Homo sapiens: one gene and its partners. The protein of the gene in region 3 purifies or fractionates together with the protein of the main gene of each other region. This does not show direct contact. Each region holds a gene or a part of one and is shown on either strand. Other genes may lie near its edges. The genes, in order: CHSY3, ITIH2, DCN, MRRF and LONP2.

Region 1 (3,360 bases), on a different chromosome or scaffold from region 3:
TTTATTCCTCCTATCTAACTGAAATGTGGTATCATTTGACAAAAATCTCCCCAACCCCTCTCTCCAGCTGGCTTAGCCCCTGGTAACCAACATTCCACACTCTAGTCCTATGAAATCAACTTTTTGATTTCTATATATGAGTGAGAGCACAAATGTCAGGTTCATAGGCTCAAATATTGCAAATGAACCTCTAGCTATACATAAAACAACAATTGACTGTGTCCATAACCCCATAACAGATCACGGAGAAGGAGAGAGACAGAATGGACACAGCATGAGTCTTCCAAAATAAGGATTCACCCTAAGGAGGAAAACCAATGACCTGTTGTTTGGAATGGCAATAAGAAGTTATTTGCCAGGGGAGTCGTAAATTTCATTTAGCATCCTGATATACTATTTTTACCGAGTAAGTTCTTGGTAAGATAAGGTGAAACGGAAACTATACTGATCTACACTCCTGATGTAAAGTATCATACCCAAAATAGACATGCTTGACATCCTTATGAAACAAAAAGACTTTCTGCTAGTCTAGAACAAATTCACTAGTTCAGGCAGAAACAAAAATGAAAAAAAATATGTAGTTATGAGGACAAAGTTCAAACCGCCAGCTGATTCTTCCTTTTCTGCCAGTCGATTAAGACACCTCCATTATACCCACTCGAGATACGTGATTATGAACAATAAAAAGAAGGAAGAAAAGAGGGGATGAGGAGAAGGAGGTGAAAAAGAAGAAAAAAGGCCAGCAGCACCATGTCTGCAAATATACTGATGAATAAGAAGAAAGAAATATTGCAAACTTAAGAATACTCATCAGAAGCAGGTACAAATTGTACATAAATTTAAAAAAACAGCCTCTTCAAAAAAAAAACTCAATTAATAGACAAATAAGCTTAAAAAAGATAAAAAGTAAACTGGCAGGGCTAAGGAAAAAAGGGAGAAAAAAATAAAATCATTGATAGACATATTGCAAGAAGCATAAAAAGAGATTTGTGAAAAACGTAGGAAGAAGAGACTTGAAAAAAATTAGCAAAGTAATAGAAATATAAAATAGAGCTTACAGTTTGGAGAAAGGGTGGTCTTTTAAGTAATTAGTGCCAGATCAGTAGGATATTCATATAAGGGAAAAAAGTAAAAACGGATCCCCTACATCCTACAATGGATGACCTGTTGATGTAAACATAAAGGTTTATTTTAGAAAAAGGCTTTAAAAAGTTTCTAGAACTTACATGAAAATATCTGCAAGACTTTTGGGTATGTGAAGATTTTATAAATAGGGCATAAGGCACTAACCATTAAAACAGACTAATACATTACATTATGTTAAAGTTAAGAACCTTGTTCTTTAAAAACACCATTAGGAAAATAATAAAGGGCAATTACAGAGCAGGAGAAAAAAAATTCAATAGATTTTATGAAAAAGAACCAATTCCCAGAACATATAATAAACTTATACAAATAAGGAAAAAAGGAAGGACAAACCTAGCAGAAAAGTGACAAAGAAAACCTGAATGAGTACTTCACAAAAGAGTATGCAAATACTCAATAGACATATAAAAACATTCTCTACTTTATTCATCATCAAGGTAAAGCAACTTAAAATTACTATGGGATAACGTGATGGATCCACAAAAAAACAGATAGATAATACTGTGCATTGTGAAGGCAGTGGAAAATTTGGAACTCTCATACACTGCTAGTGAGAATATAACTTGGTTCTATCACTGAGAAAACCCGTATCAACTAAAATGAACATACATATTCCCTATGAGTCAGTAATTCTCTCTTAGATATATGCCCAATAGAAATACATATATATATATACATACATACACCTAAATATATATAGAATAATTTTCGTAGCTGCATTATTCATACTCCAAAACTGAAAATAACCTAAATTTACATCAAGAACAGAATAAATGTAGTATATTCATGTAATGAAAAACAATACATCAATTAAATACTTGAAATACTACTTGCAACAACATGGATGAATCTCACAAAAAATGAAAGAAGCCATATACATTTTGTATTATTCCATTTATGTGAAATTCAGAAACAGGTAAAGCTAACCTATATGGTTTGCTGTTGGAATAATGATCAAGAATCAAGAAGAGGGAAGCTTCTGGAGTGCTGGTAATGTTCTTTTATTTATCCAGGTGGTGGTCATATGTGTGCATTTAATATGTGAACATTCACTGAACTGCTGCTTAAGATATATTTATCTGCTATACTCCAATTAATGAAGGACTTTATTTTGAAAGTATGCATATATATGCACATAGAATTAGATATGCTTTTCTGACATGTATGTTCATAAATGTGTGGATATGTGGGCCTGGAGAGAGAGACAGAGAGAGAGAGAAGATATCAGAGAGATTTTCCCAGAGTTATTCACCCAAGTGTCTATTGAGAATGATGAGAATAAAATTAAAACTAGAATTCTCATGATTTTCAGTTTTTCTATAGATCATGATACATTTTGAACATAGCGAAATTGTTCTAAGAAAAATATGTGTAAAATTTATTTTAAAAATTATATTAATTTGCTTGAAATAATTAAGAACCTTTAGTTTAAGCTGGCTTCCTCTCCTTTAAAGAATTATCAGTGGATTTCATGGAACCTCCAGAACATTACACGGCAAAGAAAAATCATTTCACAACAACAAAATCACAGCAGCAATGAACACCAGTGTGCCCCGACTGACCCCAGTGCTTTAAGCGTATCACACATGATCTCACCCTCTGAGAAAGATTATCTGAGAGCCTCTAGGAAAATCTTCTCAAAAAACCTAACAGAAGAAGAATAAATGCCAAGAGGTAGTTTTATGTTGAATTATTTACTCTTCTACCGCATTAAACTTTCATTACCTTTCTTAGAATTATTAATAATGAAAACATAGCATAGGTCATTTCTGAAATGATCATAGCTATATAAATGAGAAACTTTTTTGTTTTTTGTTTTCTTGAGATGGGGTCTCACTCTGTCGCCGAGGCTGGAATGCAGTGGCCTGATCTCTGCTCACTGCAGTGCTCCTGGGCTCAAGCAATCCTCCCACCTCAGCCTCCTGAGTAGCTAGGACTTATAGGTGCATGCCACCGCACCCGGCTAATTTTTCAATTTCTTTTGTAGAGATGGGTCTCACTATGTTGCCTAGGCTGGTCTTGGACTCTTTGGCTCAAGTGATCCTCCCACCTCAGCCTCCCAAGGTCTGGGATTACAGGCATAAGGCACCGTGCCCAGTCTTAACTGAGAAACTTTAAAATATTAAAAAAACAAAAAACAAAAAACAAAAACAAAACAGGAGTTGATTACTAATAGGCACAAGGTAACTTTTGGAGCAATGGAAAATTTGTAAA
Region 2 (3,525 bases), on a different chromosome or scaffold from region 3:
ATTAAAACGGTTCAAAGCTTATGTGGGCTGTATTACAAATTCTACTTTCACTACAAACTTAGCATTCATCCATTACCAATAAATGTATTATTTAAGATAGGCCCTCGAATGCTGGGGAAAGACCACTGTGATGGGAATAATGCTTCTTAAGTGAATCATGATTTGAACCCAGAGGAAGTGTCTCCTTGGGATTTAGCCCAACACACTCACCTCCACTGGGCTGGATTTTCTCAATATACCTCTTGGCATCTGCAACCTGTGTTTTTGTAGCTGAAATTAAATCATTTCTCCAAGTTCGAATGTTCTGGTTGAAATCAATCACAGAGAAATGGTCTTCTGCTCTGAGGTCATCCAATATGGTCTTCATTGCTTCCACAGTCTATTTCAATAGAGAATAAAGACAGGTCCCATTACAGAAAATCTGAGCCTCAGAGGAACTAGGAAGACCAATCATTGATCCTGGTCATCTTTCAAGTTCTTCTCAAGCTAAACTTCTTCCAGAAAACCTCTTGAGCCCACCTCAGTCAATGCAGACCTGCCCCTTATTTATTCTGGGCATGTACTGTTGGCTTTTTGATAATTTTACTATCTATTTTGCTATGCACAACCAGTTTGACTAGTCTTTATGTTAAGGATCACAAACTTCGAGTGCCACCTTTATGATGCCTGAAAATAAAATACATTTCTCAAGTCCATCTACTCACCCAGTCTCTTAAACTATTTCCTCATCTTTCTCTTTAAACCACCACCATCACCCTCTTTCTCTAGCTTACGTGTGATGATTTTGATTCCAACTCCACTGAGAAACTGCAGCAGACAGAAGAACATTCCCACAGACTCCCACTACCATAAAATCCCAACCATCAATATTTGTACCCATACATTTTTCTTTCCTACCTGATAATAAAGAACAACTAGCAGTATTTCTACCTAATGCAAACCCATCTATTCATGAACTATTTCATTCCCTCTCTTTGACTAAAGATCATGGCTCCAGCAATTGTCCTTTGCCTCTTCAATTTCCCTATTCTATTGGTACATTTCCATCAACAAAAACATGTTATTTCTCACCCTTCTACAAACCTCATGTGCATCCACTTTCTTCATTTCTCAGCTTTCTTCTGCAATAAAATTCCTTGAGGAATTGTCTAAACACACTGTCTCCAAATCTTCTCTTCCTATTCTCTCATAAGCCCAATCCTTTCGGGTTTTCATCCCTGTCACTCTACTGAAACTGCCCTTGTCAAGGTCACCAATGATGCTAATGTCACTAAATCCAAAGGTCCATCTTCATTTCTCATGCACCGGCAAGTGCTCTCATCTCCCTCCTGAACACAAATTCCTCAATTGTCTTCCAGGGCCTCATTCTCTCTTGATTTTTCTCCCCCACTTACTAATTGTTTTTATTAGTCTCTATCACCAATTATCCTCTTCTTCCCAAATTCCCAATATTGGAATGCTCTGTTGTCTGATCTTGGCTCCCTTGTCCATCTACTCCTCGGCATTCTCACCTAGTCCCAATGCTGACAGTACCTTCTATATGCTGGGGAGTCCTAACTGTGTGTCTCCACATCTCACTTTTGAACACCACGCTTCCATGGCCAACGTGGGTACTTAATAGAAATCTCAGACTTTGCATCCAAAACCAAACTGGGACATTCCCTGCAATGTCTGATTACATTTCTGTCTTTGTCAACTCATGGATGGCCACTTCATCCTTCTAGTCACTCAGGCTAAGTCCTGGGGCATCTTTCACTTCTCTTTTCTTCCCTTGCCTCACAGCTAGCCCTTCAGGATATACTGTTTACTCTACCTTCAAAACAGATTCCAGAATCCAGCTCTGATCATGACTGCACAGGTGTTCCATGAGCCACCTTGCCTCTCACTTCTCAGATCTCATCTCCCACTGCCCCTCTCTACTGGCATCTCTCTCTGTTCTTTGCACACTTTCGACTTAGAACTGTTGCATGAGCTGTTCATTGCATTTAATTCCCTTAGATATCTGCACAACTCTCCCTTCACCTTCTCAGGGTCTCCTCAGAGGTCTTCTCCAGGAAACCACCTATTTAGATGACAAGCCTATTTAAAATTGCATACCCCTGCAATTGCCACTCTTGGTTTTTAACATATGCTTCTTTTATTTTTTAAAAAAACTTTTATCAAAATGCTGCCATTGAACGTACTTGTACATTTGTACTTGCATGTGTATTGTTTATTCTCTGTCCCCTATCCCTCAGATGTAAGTTTCATAAGCACACAGAGGGTAGGCATCCGTTTTTTTTCTGTTTTTTGTTTGGTTTCTGTTTTTATGCTTTGGGTCTGTTTTGCTCATAGATGAACTAAGTGTATGACACATAGTAGGTGCTTCGTAAATATTTGTTAAATGAATGAGTGATGGAAGGAAGGAAGCAGTGAATAAACTGTTGTATTAGAGCAATGTTTCTCAACCAGAGGCAATTATTCCCCCCAGCGGACATTTGGCAATGTCTGACGTTATATTTGATTGTTATGATGCAGGGGAGGTTGTGCTACCAAAATTTAGCAAATAGACCATAGACCATGCTGCTAAGTATCCTGCAATGCACCAGACAGCCCTCCTACAACAAGGAATGACCCCATCCAAAATATCAATAGTCCCACTGCTGAGAAACCCTGCCTGGGAGTACAGACCCAGGCAGGCAGGGTCTGTGAAAGACAGGGTCTTCTTTTTCCTCTTCTTCGTCTTCGTCTTCTTCCTCTTCTTTTTTTTTTTTTTTTTGAGATGGAGTTTCGCTCTTGTTGCCCAGGCTGGAGTGCAATGGCGCGATCTCTGCTCGCTGCAACTCCCGCTTCCTGGGTTCAAGCAATTCTCCTGCCTCAGCCTCCCGAGTAGCTGGGATTACAGGCATGCACCACCACGCCTGGCTAATTTTGTATTTTTAGTAGAGACAGGGTTTCTCCATGTTGGTCAGGCTGGTCTCAAACTCCCAACCTCAGGTGATCCACCTGCCTTGGCCTCCCAAAGTACTGGGATTACAGGCGTGAGCCACTGTGCCTGGCTGACAGGGACTTCTTTTAGGTTCCTTACAGATCTTAGGGTAGTAGTGAACTCTTGGGTGGTCAAAAATAGTTGCCCTATGACTGGTTAGTTGGTTGTTCAACTTGGTTGAATGGATGGATGGATTGATGGGTAAGTTAAATCATTTCCTTGTTTGGTCTTTAGTATTGCATCTGTACATCTCACTTATCACTAAGTAAGCCTATATTGAGCTCTGAGCTGGAAAACATAAGATGGATAGCTGCTCTCAAGCAATTACCATATAATTAGAAATAATATGTATATATTGAATCAATAGTCATATGTGGACAATGACAAGATATTATAATAAAACATGTGGAAGAGCAAAAAGAATGTGACTGATCCTTGAAAGAAGAGGTTATATAGAGATTCTGTTTTTCAAAGAGGTGAGTTTTGAGACAGTTTTTCAAGGAAATATTGGATAGAGAGTGGAAAAGAGAAAGAGAAGGAAGAGGAAACAGGAAAGA
Region 3 (2,442 bases):
CACATATCTTTGTCAGACCAAGTGGCAATATGGGTGCTTTATAAAGTAGTCATCAATATAAACTTTTACAGAATTAGATGGAGTCATTTTATGCTGCAATTCCATGTAAAAATGGCCTTAGCTATAGAAGTTGTATGTGTTTTCATGATTTTCTAGTTAAACATGCTGGTATAGTGCCTGAGGCTCAATGAGACCTCCTGCAGTTTCAGGAATATGCTTTCTTTATGCTATAAGACTGTTTGTTTATAACTGTCAAACCACCAGCAAGTTATCAACTCACATTCAAAACAGGCACCAAGCCACACTTTTGTTAATGTGAATTCTTGAAGAAAACAGAAACTAGACTGTTTTTGTAAGTTTTAAACTCATAAGCCAAAACACAGGGATTTAAAAAAAAAAAAAAAAAAACAATGATTTCTTTCTCAAGAGGTTTTTTTCTTTCCTTGGTGGTGTTCAAGCAAGAACTGTTTTGGAAATGCTGACAGGATCATAGCAAAGGCATCCAGAGGGAAACATATAATATGTTTATTTATCTTAGAAACCACAGAACATTGCAAAAGGCCAAATTGGCCCTGTAAAATGTGTTGCTAACATGTACAGTATGATTGCTTAGTTTGGACAAAGTCAAGTCATTTCTGTGCTGATAAAGAAGGATCACAATCTATATTCCGGCATCTCTAGAATTTATGTCTACAGCTCAACCCTTTCCCTTGAGCTCCAAAATTCTAGATCTAAATCCTCCTTGACACCTCCATATGGAAGTTGAATATGCATCTCAAAAAGAACAGATTCAAAACCAGATATTTGATTCTCAGTTCTTCCAGCTCAACCTCCCAGTCATTACCATCTCAGTAAATGGTGACTTCATCCTTCCAGTGGCCCAGGCCAAAATTCCTGAAGTCATCTCTGTTTCTTTTCTTTCTCTCTCATGCCCCATCTGATCATTCAGCCATCCCTGGCCTCTCTACCATCAAAACAAACCCCATATTTTGATCCCTTCTCAACAATTTTTCTACTATTATCCAGGTCAAAGTCTTCATCATCTCTCACCTGATTATTGCACTAGCATCCGAAATATTCTCTCTTGGCCTATTCCTGTTACCTTACAGTCTATACACGCAAAGGGATCCTCTCAAAGACAGTTGAATCAAGTCACTCCTCTACCGAGACCCCTCTAATAGCTCTCTGTCTTACTCAGAGTAAAAGCTCATCTTTACAATGGCCTAAAAAGTCCTACAGGATGCGATTGTCATTACCTTTCTGACCTTGTATCATATATTATCTCTTCTTGCTCACTTTACTCTGCTCACGTTTGTCCTCTCTGCTCTTGTTGGAACGTGCCATGTATTTTCCAAATTCAGGGCCTCTTTTCTTGGCTTGCTCCCTTCAGTTCTTCATCTCCCTGCTCAAATGTCACTCCTGATAAGTCCTTTTTCCGACCATCCTATATAAAATAGCAAGTCTCACCCCCTTCACATCCCTTATTCCCCAGTTCTGCTTGACATTCCTCCACTTTAATTGTCATGTCCTGGAATGTCTCCTCCTGCTGCAACATCTGCTTCAGAGGGCAAGGCATTATGCACTGCTGTGTCTCTGCCACTAGAACACTGTCAAGCACACAGTAGGTTATTAATAAATATTGGCTGAAAAAATGAAGTAATATGTGCTAGTAGATATATCTGATCAAGACAAAAAAGTTGGATTATTTTGACATTTTTGAGTGTATTTTAAAATTGATTTGTGTTTCTATGCTTGTTCCTGATGGCCTGGAAGCATTCATTCAGCCCTCACAGTCACTGCAGAATGTGTGGCCTGGGAAGAGTCTCCTGATCTCCAATGCCTAAGTGATTGATGGCAGTCATAATACTCAGGAGGCAACTCACCCAGTCCTTTTCTGGTTATCTTATACTGGGGTAGGGTGTGCATATGCCCTTTCTTTTGGCTCAAAATTGTTCAACTTCTTTGAAGGTTGTTTTAGTTTCCTGAATGCGTATGCTTGTATATGGTTTTAATAAGTTTAGTGTTCTCCCTTTCTTGATTTTACTTTGTTTTCCACTATTATACTTTGTGGTGTGAAATTGACAGTCTGTCACAGACCTGTGATTTGAAATAATTGTGACAGATGGTGTGCTTGAATACATAAACAGATCCACTAGAAGGAATGTTTTAGCAATAAGTGTGGAAACTTAAAATTGAGCAGCAAAATCAAGAGTGAAATAACTGCAATGTCGACTCAGCAACCTCGAATGTCTGTGCTGCAGGAGAGTCTGAAGGACAGTGAAGTCTTGTGAAGAGTTGTTGTGTGTGTGAAGGGGCAGTCTTGGACTGGGACTGCCTGGAACATTGGATGAATGAGAAATGACTGTATAAAACATTTTTAGTTTACTTGAGGGATTAGGCAATTCTTCCTTCGTATAAAGATAAGATTATGATATCCTGCAG
Region 4 (3,525 bases), on a different chromosome or scaffold from region 3:
GAAAATAAAAAGCTGAATACAAAATTGTATATATACTATATGTTCTCAATCATGTTTAAAACTATGTAGTTTTTTTTTTTTTTAGAAAAAAGGAAAAAAGAAATATTCCAAAATGTTAAGAGCGGTTGCCTCTCCAATGTGGGAGGGGAGGATGAACTTTCTCCAATGAACATATATTACTTTGATAATAAGGAACAAAAGTAAACAAAATTTTAAAACTGTCTGATGAAGCGACAATCAGCCATAACCTTGTTTTATATCTTTAAAACATGCACGCACACGTACACACACACACACACCAAAAATTCCAGTCTGGGGCCTTCTGACAGTAGAAAGAACACCATGAAGTATATATAAGGCTCTCTACTGTTCCAAACTTTTAACTCTATGACAGTAAATTAAGTTATTAACAATCCTGGTTAAGAATAAACATTTAGCTGGGCACTCATGCCTGTAATCCCAGCACTTTGGGGGGCTGAGGTGGGCGGATCATCTGAGGTCAGGAGTTCAAGACCAGCCTGGCAAACATGGTGAAACCTCATCTCTACTAAAAATAAAAAAATTAGCAGGGCATGGTGGCACGTGCCTGTAATCCCAGCTACTCGGGAGTCTGAGGCAGGAGAATCGCTTGAACCCAGGAGGTAGAGGTTGCAGTGAGCCAAGATTGCACCACTGCACTCCAGCCTGGGTGACAAAAATAAAAAATAAATAAAAATAAACATTTAAATAATAATATGTTTAGAAAGATATCTGTGATATATCGTATCATATAAATTGTATGATACTTTTTCTTGTTTCGAGAGATAACTTGAAGTTCTACACTAAAATGTTAACAACAGTCATCTGAGTGATGAGATTTCAATTACTTTCTTCCTTGTTTTAACAGCAAAACGAATACAGCTATTTTCACTTAAAAAAATCACAGTAAGAAGCACTAAAGAAAAAAAATTTAATCTGAAGAGGATGGCGAAAAGCCAGTGCTAATGAGTGAAGGCTTCCAGCAAGGTCTTTGTCAAGAGGGTTTTATCAAGAATGCTTGCTATCTGATCATTCTTCCTCTTTCAGGAGTTGTGGGCTCTGGTCCCTGAGGCAGATGTCCTGGCTTGCTGAGTGACTAGTGCCTGGCAGGCCCTGAAGGTCCATAGGCTTACCACCAAGAAGCAATGACAAGGGAAAGCAGTGAAGAAATCCCCTAGGAGAAAGACAAGGAGCCGGCCCAGCTGGAGCCAGGGCCCAGACTATTAATGAGGCCTGGTCAGTGCACAGGAAAGGCCCGCCTAATCTCTGAACCTCTTCTTTTAGCTGATACAGGGAAGGAGGAGGGCAGAGAGATGGCAAGAGGGGAGTTTTGAGGGTTTGGGTGTTAGGTACACTAATGGTGCTTTCTAGCATACCAAGGAAACCATTCAAGGCAGAAATTACCAATCCCTTTTTACAGAAAACAGACTCCAAAGAGTCAAGCAACTTCCCCAAGGTCATAGGACATCAAGTGCAGAACAATCTTTTTCTAACTCTAGTGTCATTACACAGGTACATTACCAGGCTTCTAGGTCATTATCTTCTATGTGTGCTTTTACACAATTACCTGAGAGCTTTTTAAAACTATACATTCCAGCTGGACGCATCTGTTATCCCAGCTACAGGAGGACTGCTTGAGCCCAGGAGCCCAAGACCAGCCTGGGCAACATAGTGAGACCCCATCTCAAGAAAAATGAATTAATAAAAGTAAGTAAAATAAAAATATACATTCCTAGGCAGAGCTACTGTATCAGAAAATGCAGGAGTAGGGCCCAGGAAGCCACCTAAAATTCCCCCCCCCAGGTGACTGTTGTGGCTGTCCTACTAGTAAAATGCTAGTAAAACTAGCATTTTAACTGCTGGTGGAGGAGAAGGGGAGCAGCTAGTCAACTTATGGACTTCTCCAGGGGTCCCTTGCTTCTCGCTTCTCTCTTCACTCCCTATCCAGCCCACATGCCTGTTCAATCTCCCTAAAACAATGCTTTATTGTGGATGAGGAGGCTTTAAGGCCTATCAAACCCTTTATATTACATTGAACATTACTAATTCTATCTCCACATCTTTCCACAGGTGCCACTCAGGTTCAGGCCACCATCACTTCCTGGCTGGATTTCTGCAGCAGCATCCCTATCGCCCTGCCTCCAGTCTTGCCCCCTACAATCTGTTTTCTACCTGGCCACCATAGTCATCTTTCATAAACATAGATGTGCTCTCTCCATCATCTAAAAAAAATCTTTTAAGTGTGTCACTGTATGAGAATCACCTGAGAAGGATTTAAAATACAGATTCCTGGCTCTGTCCCAGATTCATTGACTCAATCTCTGGAAATGGGGCCCCAGATACCTGGATTTTTATAAGCTACCCAAGTGATTAAGGTACTTTGGTAGAGAGATGCTGTTCAGCAAATATTCACTTCTTTCCCCAGACCTCCATAAATATATATATTTCCTTGTACCAAACATATTGAGCTTGGCCCATGTGACTTGCTTTGGCCAATCAAATGTGACAAGAGCAGGTGTTTAAAATGTACTTGAGTGGTTGGGCTTATGATCTTGGCATCTGCTGTTACCATGAAAAGAGGCCCTAGGAAACCTGTTGGCTTTGGAAGATTGAGAGATATAAAGCAGATTTGAACCCAATCCAAGATCTGGAGCCAAGCCCACTGAGCCCAGCCTAGAATAGCTACACCCCAGCTGGCCCATGGAAATGAGAACAAGAAATAATGCTTTGATATTGTCGATCACTGAGTTTTGGGGTAGTTATGTACCATTATTGTGGCCATACATGACTAATATAGATGCACAGCCAATGTGGGACAGTCTGTACATGTTAACGTTCAAACTCCTAAACCTGGTGTACGAGACCTTCCTTCTATTATCTAGCCACTCTGTTTTCTTTATTCATTCCCTAGTCTTATCCTACGTTCAAACCCCAATGATCTTAACTGAATATTGTTTTTATATCACCTTACCTTTGTACATATGGTTACACTTTTCCCCCTTGTCTCTCACTATTTTACTCCAGCAGCTTAAGACTTATTCAAGTGCCACTACTCAGCACACTGAGAACACTAAGTGCTCAATTCTCAGCAACCGGAAAACCAGACAGGAGAGCATTAGCGTAGAGGCTCTGAAATCCGTCTGCCTAAGTATGGATCCGATTTCTACCAATTTCCAGCAGTGTGATTTCGGGCAAGTTATTTAACTTGCCTGAATCTCAGTTTCCTTACTACCTACCTCATAGTTTTGTAGTGATGAGGGTAAATGAAGTAATATAAAGTGTTCAGCACAAAACCTGGTACACAATACAAGTGTCTTATCCTCCTCTATGGATCCCTCTGAATCTGGCATTAGGCTAGGCCCAGAACAGAGACTCAGACAATGGTGATAATGTGAATGAAAGATCAGAGGTATTCTGTTTTAACTGTCCTCACCTCAAACATGAACAAATGATTCCTTATGCTGAATACACAGACACTACTACATTGCTGGCAATAGTACCTGTTTC
Region 5 (2,800 bases), on a different chromosome or scaffold from region 3:
ACAGTTTTTCCTTTGTGAGTAATTTTTATTGTAATATGTATGATTTTAAGACCCACCTTTCTGCAAACTTCAAACGTATGTAAGTGGCTGTAGATAGCTTAGCTCACCAAAATAATAGTGTGCTGCCTCCAACCCCCAAAAGCTCTTCATATTTAGAAACATCTGCAGTGATTCTACTAATGGTAGAATTCTATTTCATTCACACTCCTGATTAGAAGAATTGGTAAGTAATCCAAATTAAGAAAATAATGGATCAAATCCAACATACCTGGGGGGTCAGTCTGTGACTGCTGCATTAGAATGGACATAAAAGTAATGTCGAAACTCGACAGGGTGAATAGTGTGTGTGAACTACCACGCAGGACTGTGGTATTTGTGTAGGTTAAACATGAAAGGTACAGATAGAGTGTTACAGAGACCCGGAGTTTGAAGCTTTGTCATTCCCCTCCCCACTCATCCAGTGTGCATGTTCAAAGCACAAAGGAGTATTTGGTAGTTTACTGCTTATGATCCTAACCTGAATTTACCAAAAGAAACGTACGTTTATCTAAAAATGGCACCATCCAAACAAAATTCCTTATCAAGCATCTACTAAGATTTGGTGGCAAACAGTGTGGGTTGTAGATTCTAACTGCCTGGGTTGACTTCTGACTCTGTATCTACCAGTTTTTATTTAAATACCTTCTCTGCCTGGTCCCTCCTCCACAAAAGGGTATGATGTCCACTGCGTAAGGGAATGAGGAAGGCTAGATGTGCTATAAAGTGCTTATTATGCCTGACTTGATACCCCAGTGTCTTGCTGAACCAAATATTTTCGCTATCCTTATATAGCTCTAGAAACTTGACAAAGAAATACACTTTATTATCATAGATGTAATTTTCTTAGGCCTTTCTGAATTCTGAAAATAATAACAGGTTTACAGATATAAATAATGGAGCAAAAGGACACCTGGTTTTGGGGTCACATTTTGACAGGCTTGCACTGTCATGTCAGGATGAGGATTTAGCCTCAAGAGTTTGTATTGCCTAGAAATGTGCTGACAGTGTCATTAAGTACAAACTACAGTATTTCCAAAGAAATGAATTTTCATGACAAAGCTTTTCCTAAAATTGTTTTAGAAGTCCTTTTGCTGTAACTTTTAAAACATCTCAATGACCACTCACCATATTTGCCTGTTGTCTATTCAGACCTTTTTGATATTTCCTTCCTCTTTCAGCATTTTTGTTTTTTAAGTGCAGTTTTCATTGTGGTATCCACCAAATGTTTGTAAAACAAACAAAAAAAATGAGCATTAGTGTTGGACCATAAATCATCAAATTGGATAATGACTAACTGTAGTCTTTTTTTTTTTTTTTTTTTTTAGCTGCTGGATACAATTTTCATGGCAATAGGAACTGAAGTACTTCAAATAATGTGAGCTTAAACATGTTACTTCATTGAAACAACCAAAACTACTTGATGTTTACATCTAAAATCCTGGTTAAAATAAATTTTAGATTTGGAAAGGGAATTGGCAAAACTAACATTCTTTGTAGCAAAATGTCCCTTAGTAATAGTCAAGTTGACCTCATTTCAGTAGTTCATAAAGGAAAATCCAAAGCCCTCAGCAGTGAATTACCTGGCCACATAGCTGATTTTGGTCACTGTGAATGCAGACCAATCACCTAGTACTGGAAGCTCACAGTGGTAGACATCACTATCACAGTACTTTACGGTCATGGATTTCTCGTGAACTATTTCAGGAACAATCACAAAGATGACATTCTTCACTGTATTTGCATTTGTAACCACCAAGCAAGTAAGGATCTCTGCCCCAGATGCATGGTTTGAGGTAAGGTTCACAGGGACCACTAAAGGGGCAGAGCCAAGTAAAAACATGGATGTCTCCAGTGGACAGTGTAGGATTTCTTGATAAGCAAAGCACCTAAAGCTTTTAGTTTTAATACTTGAGAAGTTTTAAAAACCCATGCATAAAACGTGGAATACCGGTAAAATACACATATCCCTAAGTCTAGTTTAAACTAAAATTTCTAGAGTTAATAATTTTCAATAAAAAAATCCAGCTTATTTTGATACAAGGGGTCTTTGGGTAACATCTTAAAAATCAATGCTAGAAAATGCTCAACATCACTAGTCATTAGGGACATAGAATCAAAATACGTCACACCCATTTGGAGGGCTATTATAAAAAACCCAGAAAATGAGTGCTGGCAAGGATGTGGAGAAACTGGAACATTTGTGCATTGCTGGAAGGAATGTCAAATGGTGCAGCTGCGGTGGAAAAGTTTGGCAGTTCTCAAAAAGTTAAACAGAATTATCCTGTTGTCTTAGTCATTTGTGTTAACCGTAACAGAATACCTGAGACTGGGTAATTTAAAAGTACGAATTTATTTCTCATAGTTGTGAAGACTGAGAAGCCCACGATCAGCGTGCTGGCAGACTGGTATCATCTATTGAGGGCCCAGTCTCAGCTTCTAGGACGGGGCCTGTTGCTGTGTCCTCATATGGTGGAAGGGAATCGAAGGGCAAAAAGGAGGTAATTGGTTCCCTTGAGCCCCTTTATAAAGGCACTAAATCCATTAATGAGGATGGAGCTCTCATGACATAATCACCTCCTAAAGCCTCACCTATCACGTTGGTGGTTGCTTCAACATACGAATTTGGTGGGGGGACATTCAGACCTTAGCATATGTGATCTAGTAGTTCTGCTCCTGGATATGTATCCCTAAAGGACCTAAGAAGGGACTTCAAGAGAGATGTGTACACCCATGTTCATAGCATTACTCATAATACCCAAGA

Evidence for each region.
Region 1: the proteins of DCN (region 3) and CHSY3 purify together in Homo sapiens (co-immunoprecipitation; one large-scale study listed by IntAct). This does not show direct contact.
Region 2: the proteins of DCN (region 3) and ITIH2 purify together in Homo sapiens (affinity purification with mass spectrometry; one large-scale study listed by BioGRID and IntAct). This does not show direct contact.
Region 4: the proteins of DCN (region 3) and MRRF purify together in Homo sapiens (co-immunoprecipitation; one large-scale study listed by IntAct). This does not show direct contact.
Region 5: the proteins of DCN (region 3) and LONP2 purify together in Homo sapiens (affinity purification with mass spectrometry, with the first as the bait; one large-scale study listed by BioGRID). This does not show direct contact.

The regions. Positions count from the first base shown.
Region 1 is NC_000005.10:130,180,458-130,183,817, reverse strand, and holds part of CHSY3 (chondroitin sulfate synthase 3), read right to left. Parts: intron 1,359-3,360; exon of another isoform or gene 1,059-1,358; intron 1-1,058. UniProt on the Homo sapiens protein: Has both beta-1,3-glucuronic acid and beta-1,4-N-acetylgalactosamine transferase activity. Transfers glucuronic acid (GlcUA) from UDP-GlcUA and N-acetylgalactosamine (GalNAc) from UDP-GalNAc to the non-reducing end of the elongating chondroitin polymer.
Region 2 is NC_000010.11:7,723,804-7,727,328, reverse strand, and holds part of ITIH2 (inter-alpha-trypsin inhibitor heavy chain H2 precursor), read right to left. Parts: intron 380-3,525; coding exon 211-379; intron 1-210. UniProt on the Homo sapiens protein: May act as a carrier of hyaluronan in serum or as a binding protein between hyaluronan and other matrix protein, including those on cell surfaces in tissues to regulate the localization, synthesis and degradation of hyaluronan which are essential to cells undergoing biological processes.
Region 3 is NC_000012.12:91,139,983-91,142,424, forward strand, and holds the end of DCN (decorin isoform a preproprotein), read right to left. Parts: 3' UTR 502-2,442; downstream 1-501. UniProt on the Homo sapiens protein: May affect the rate of fibrils formation.
Region 4 is NC_000009.12:122,313,380-122,316,904, reverse strand, and holds part of MRRF (ribosome-recycling factor, mitochondrial isoform 1 precursor), read right to left. Parts: coding exon 3,519-3,525; intron 1-3,518. UniProt on the Homo sapiens protein: Responsible for the disassembly of ribosomes from messenger RNA at the termination of mitochondrial protein biosynthesis. Acts in collaboration with GFM2. Promotes mitochondrial ribosome recycling by dissolution of intersubunit contacts.
Region 5 is NC_000016.10:48,355,075-48,357,874, reverse strand, and holds the end of LONP2 (lon protease homolog 2, peroxisomal), read right to left. Parts: 3' UTR 1,211-2,800; coding exon of another isoform or gene 1,165-1,210; 3' UTR 526-1,164; downstream 1-525. UniProt on the Homo sapiens protein: ATP-dependent serine protease that mediates the selective degradation of misfolded and unassembled polypeptides in the peroxisomal matrix.